2 separate regions of the Homo sapiens genome follow, and region 1 is linked to region 2. The links come from fine-mapping of genetic effects on gene expression. A gene starts in region 2. The other region holds a variant in brackets. All regions are shown on one strand. Distances are from middle to middle. Region 1 overlaps RASGEF1C (RasGEF domain family member 1C). Region 2 holds the start of MGAT1 (alpha-1,3-mannosyl-glycoprotein 2-beta-N-acetylglucosaminyltransferase).

Region 1 (2,905 bases), 660 kb before region 2:
GCCAGTTGAAAACGTGCCCAAGGGCCCTGCTGTTCCTCCTCAGCGTGGGGCTGGCAGAAGGTGGGCCGGCTGTACCAGTGAAAACCCACAAGCTCTGCTGTGCTCTGGGAGCTGGCGTGCTCAGACCTTCCTGGTGTAAAAGTCATCCAGGACATCCAGGACTCCTGACTTACGTTTCATATTGTGATTGTAAGGGTGGCAATTAATTCTATTTTTTTAAAAAGCCACTGATGGGGCCACACAGTGAGTTAAAGCACAGTTAGAAATGACATCTGTAGTGCCAAGGTGGTCAGTTTACAGACCCTGTTCCTGCTGGGGTCCCCACATCCCTCAGCATGGGTGGCTGGCATTAAACATCTGCAAAATGGAAATCCATCGAACTTGCAGAAGAAAAGCAGGTGGCTGGTCAGAGCGCGTCCTGGGGGCTGGAGGGATGTTCTCCCTGGGCCAGGTGTGGCAGAAGGGACAGAGGTAAAGAAGGCTCCCGAAGGCCCCTGTGAGGACCACGCGCGTGTCTCAGGAAGACACCTGTGAGCTCTGAGAAGAGGGAGCAGTCCCCCTCTTCAGGTTATGGAGACTGGTGCACGAAGTACCTCGCACAGTGCCTGCTGTGGAGAAAGGACCCCCAAGGCCAGCACTCGCCACGGGGAGCTCGCCACCTGCTAGGGCCAGACCACAACACAGGCAGCAACTGCTGTTAACCAAGGCTCTGTGTGTGCCAAAAAGACTTGCCAACTGCACCGCCATGGTTCCCCATGGCTTCTGTGCTGGCTGCAGCTGGGGCGACCCTCTACCTGCCCATCCAGCCCTGCAGCTGAAACCACGTCCCAACAGCTGCTGGAAATGGTCCCACTGCTTTAGCCTCAAAGGCTGTGGTGGGTCCACGGCCCCAAATCAGAGCCCTTTCTGCCCTTGCTTGAATATGTGCAGAATTTTACACATTTACACATTCTCAAGAGTTTGAGACCAGCCTGGGCAACACAGTGAGACCCTCATCTCTAGAAAAAGTTTTTAAAAATTAGGTTGACGTAATGTCACACACCTGTAGTCCGAGCTACTTGGGAGGCTGAGATGGGAGGATTGCTTGAGCCCAGGAATTCAAGGCTGCAGTGAGCTGTGACTGCACCACTGCACTCCAGCCTGGGTGACAGAGCAAGACCCTGCCTCTACCAAAAAAATAAAAATTAAAAAAATATACTTAACATAAATTTACCGTGTAAAGTTCAGTGGCATTAAGTACATTCACACTGTTGCACAAGCATCACCACCGTCCGTCCACAGAAGTTTTTCATCATCAATTGAAACCCTGTACCCAGTAAACACTAACTCCCCAATTTCTCCTCCTCTCCTTCCCCAGCCCCTGGTAACCACAGTTCTACATTCTATGTATTTTTACCATTCTGGGTACCTTATATAAGTGGAATCATAAAACATTTGTCCTTCAGTGACTGGCGTATTTCATTCATCTTTGTCAAGGTGCACCACTGTTGTAACATGCGTCAGAATTTCCTTCCTTTTTAAGGCTGAATACTGTTCCACTGCATGCACATACCATATTTTGTTCATCTATTCATCTGTCAGTGGGCAGTGGGGGTTGTTTCCCCCTTTACCATACTGTTTTCCACAGCAGCTGCACCATTTTATTTATTTTTATTTTAATTTTTATTTTGAGACGGTCTCACTCTGTCACCCAGGCTGGAGTGCCGTGGTGCAATCTCAGCTCACTGCAACCTCTGCCTCCCGGGTTCAAGCGATTCTCCTGCCTCAGCCTCTCAAGAAG[C/G]TGGGATTACAGGCATGTGCCACCACCGTGTCCGGCTAATTTTTGTTTTAGTAGAGATGGGGTTTCACCATGTTGGCCAGGCTGGTCTTAAACTCCTGACCTTAGGTGATCTGCCCGCCTCAGCCTCCCAAAGTGCTGGGATTACAGGCGTGAGCCACCGTGCCCGGCCCGCTGCACCATTTAAAATTACCAACAGCAATGTAAAGGGTTCCAATTTCTCCACATCCTTGACAATGCTTGTTGTTTTCTGCTTTTTTGATAATGGCCATCCTAATGGGTGGGAAGTGGTATCTCATTGTGGTTTGGATTTGCATTTCCCTAAATATCAGTGATCTTGAGCATCTTTTCATTTGCCATTTGTATATATTCTTTAGAAAAATGCCTGTTCAAGACTTTTCCCCACTTTTTTCAAGCAAAGAAAATTTAATTCATAGAATTGGTTCCGTGACAGGATGTAATTACCCCACCCCTGAGATTTAAGGAACAAAAGAGAAGCCGTGGCGTTTCAAGACCCAGATCAGAGGAGAAGCCCCACAGAACTGGAGCTCACGCTTCGAGCATGGCTGCTGCTGGGACCTCTGCAGGGGCATGAGGCAGCTAGCCCCAAGAGTCCTCTTTTACCCATTTTTGAATTGAGTTGTTTGGGATTTGTTTGTTTTTGAGTTTTAGGAGTTTGTTAGATAGTCTGGATATCAATCCCTTATTAGCTATGTGATTTGTAAATATCTTCTCCTATTCGGTAGGTTATCTTTTTACTTTGTTGATAGTGTCCTTTGAGGCACAAATGTTTTCCATTTTGATGAAGTCCAATTCGTCTATTTTTGTCTTTTGTTGCCTGTGTCTTTGGTATCATATCCAAAAAGTCACTGCCCAATCCAATATCATGAAGCTTTCCCCCAATGTTTTTTTGAGATGGAGTCTGGCTCTGTCACCCAGGCTGGAGTGCAGTGGCACAATCTTGACTCACTGCAACCTCTGCCTCCCAGGTTCAAGTGATTCTCCTGTCTCAGCCTCATGAATAGCTGGGACTACAGGTGCATGCCACCACACCCGGCTCATTTTGTATTTTGTATTTTGGTACTTTTAACACGGTTTCACCATGTTGCGCAGGCTGGTTTCCAACTC
Region 2 (2,905 bases):
AGATTTTCCCTTCTATCTCTGCTTTGCTTAAAGTTAAAAAGCACTACGTAAAAATTCCAGAAAATATAGACATGTCACAGGTAATGGAACTCTAACTGAACTGCTTTCATGTTCGTTCTTAGACCTTGGCTGGACTCCTGTATCATGTACCAGGCCCATAATTTCAGGACGGAAAAAAAAGAAAGGTAGTCAGAGAAGATACACTAAATAATTCAAGAGTTGAGAGAATAAGACCTAGGAGGGAAGGGATGCAGGTTATTCATCCTGGAAAAGAAGAGCTAAATACAAGTGCCACAAAAGGCATGAGGCCTGGGATTCAGGCGATCCAGCCAGCAAGCCAGGCAACTTTGGACAAGTCACTTGACCCACTTGTACCTTAGTTCTCTCATCTATAAGGTGACAGGGTTGATTTGGTTCATCACAAGGTCCCACTGCCTGGATACTGACGACAGTGACAATTTCCCTACTGCCCCGAACAGTAATGAGTTTCCCTTGTTAACACAGGCCACTGAGGTCAGGCATACCGCAGTGCTTCTAACAGTGAGAATGAGACACAGAAGCAGGGAAATGGGTGAGCTCAATGGTCCCCAGAATTGGGAAGGACCAGGACGCAGTGATTGCTGATGGAAGGCAGATCCTGGATGATGTGAGCACGTAAGAGCAAAGGCTACACGGCCTGAAAAAATACCGTAAATGACTGAAAATAAAGCTGGGCAACATCTCAGCCAGTGATGTTCTAAAACAAAACGGCAGACCCACTACAGCAGCAAGGGTTAACCAAAGTGAAGCTTCAGCCTTCAGGGAGCCGGCCAGCCACAGTCCCTCTACTTCAGAGTTTATCAGACGCGGGCACTGCACGTCCCGGGGCTCTCTACTCCACACACGTTAGCAAACAGGAAGAAAAGTTTTCTTGCCAACTTATTATATATATATTTCAACACTGAATCAACATTTCCTTTCTGCTGAGGAGAATCAGCCTCTATTAACTTGGGGAAAGGATGCTGGAGTGAGGTTAGGGGGGAAAGGCCACTCCCCAATCCCACCCCCTCCCTGCCCCGCACGCACGGACGCCCGGGGCCGAGTTTCACAACATCCTCCCCAGTCCGCGGAGCCCGCCCTTCCTCTAACAGCTGGAGGCCCGGGATTCCGAAAGCAGAAGGCGGAGTTCCAACCTCTCGGCTCGGGAAGGGACTAACGCGCAGCTGGCACCGGGTCGGACCGGGCCGCTCCCCAGCCAAGCCCCCTCTCGCTAGCACTCATGGGCACCGGGGCTTTGGGGCGACCCGACGTCCCTTGGGCTCCCTCTCGGCGCCCGCGAGGCCTCCCCCGGTCTGACCTCCGTCCCCGGACACCTACTCACCAGGTCCTCCCGACGTCCTGGCCCCGAACTTGGCCTGCTCCGGGGCGCAGGGAGCGAGCCCGGTGCCCAGGCGCGTCCCAAGCGCTGCCGCGGCCGCCTCGCCTTTCGACTCGCCAGCCCTTTCTGCGGCGCGCCGGGGCCGGACGGCCGGGCGGGCAACGTGGCCCTTCCCCGGCAGGCGGGGCGGGGCGGGGCGGACTGAGGGGCGTGACCGACAGCCCCGCCGCGCCCCGCCCCCCGGCCGGCGTCCGCCAGGCCCCCTCCTCCTGGCCCGCCTCCTTTCCCCGCCGCTTCTCAGTCAACCCAGGACCCAAGTTTTCCCAGGACCCCAACTTCGGGAGTCGGCTTTCCGGCTCCCTGGCGCAACCCTGAGGGTGGACGCCCGACCCCACCCCTGCCCTCGGCCCTCCAGCGCAGCTGCCCAGCCTGGAGCCGCGCCTGAAGTGGGCCCGCAGTCCAGGAAAGGCGTTCACCAAACCCTAGGCCAAGGGCTGGGAGCCAGTCCCCCCACCCCAACCCAGGGGAGGCTGAGGAGCCCGGGTGGGAGCCCCAGGGTCGCGTGGGGCAGGGACAGAACAGGAACCAGGGTGCCCGACGGGGGGCCGGGGGGAAACACCTGTGCCAAAGCAAGCCGGGGCCAGCTGTGGCTTCTTCCCTTTTGTTTTTCCTTGGTGGGTGGGGAATGAGAGCTTCAGTTCTGAGTAAAGAAAGCGAAGAGAGACCTACCAGCAGGGGAGGCCCACCAGCCCTAGGCGGGAAGGACTCGGTCACAAGCTTTGGCGGAAGCACCATGGAAAAGCCTAGAACGGGTCTGCGCCCGGCTGGTGTTTTAAAGGGGAGGAAGGTGCGGACCTGAAGAGGAGGTGGAGGTGGACCCAGGCCCACCGAGGGGAGGGAGGGACAGCTCTTCCATAGCAAATACCTGTCGCTGAGCCAGGAGTAAAGTCTGGCCGGGAGGAGGACAGACGCAGAAGACCAGGGGCTCCAGCGCACAGAGCCAGTTTCGCCAGCGATCAGGTCTGAGGCCTGGATTCCACGAGGCCGGTGCAAGCCAGGAGCCAGCCCCACTCCCTCGCCCAGCTCCCTCCGGCCTGGCCCTCTGCAGAAGCCTGATGCCCACCCAGCTGTCTCACCATGGGACCCCAGGCGGTGAGGGTGGGTAGCCGAGGACTACAGGCTGCTGGGTAGCTGACTTCCCCAAGAAGGGCTGCTGCCATGTGATCAGGACCCACGCCCCTGACATCAACCCCTCCCCCGTGTTCCAGAGCACGGAGCAGCCCGGAACTCTGCGGCCTGTGGTTACTGACTGACTGCTCACTAACTTGTTTCTACATGAAACCACGAATCGTGCAGGGTTCTAGAGAAACAAAGGGCCGCGCGCACCCGCAGGCCCCTGCGTGGAGGCGAGGACCTAAATCAAAACTGCTAAGGGGTCACCAGGCATGGTGAGGGGCCTCACGGGCCAAACCCTCCCTCGGCCTGTCCTTCAAGCCTCAGCAGCTCTGCGGAGTGAGCGTTATCATCCCCATTCTACAGATAACTAGT

What was found. PIP is the estimated chance that this variant, and not a neighbour inherited with it, causes the effect. A credible set is the group of variants that fine-mapping cannot tell apart.
Region 1: its variant is the best candidate, but not a certain one, in a credible set for the expression of MGAT1 in Th1/17 cells (Schmiedel 2018, PIP 0.89).

The regions. Positions count from the first base shown.
Region 1 is chr5:180,143,472-180,146,376 of GRCh38, forward strand. All of the region lies in intron 1 of RASGEF1C (RasGEF domain family member 1C), which reads right to left. Among named protein-coding and RNA genes, the nearest start is that of RASGEF1C, 64 kb to the right of the region's middle. The variant C/G (reference allele first, on the strand shown) is at 1,781.
Region 2 is chr5:180,801,320-180,804,224 of GRCh38, forward strand. MGAT1 (alpha-1,3-mannosyl-glycoprotein 2-beta-N-acetylglucosaminyltransferase) reads right to left here and starts at 1,487. Exons shown (of 2, transcript NM_002406.4): 1 at 1,361-1,487. RefSeq lists enhancers at 799-1,506, 1,507-2,213, 2,357-2,466 and silencers at 1,317-1,676, 1,847-1,926, 1,937-1,986.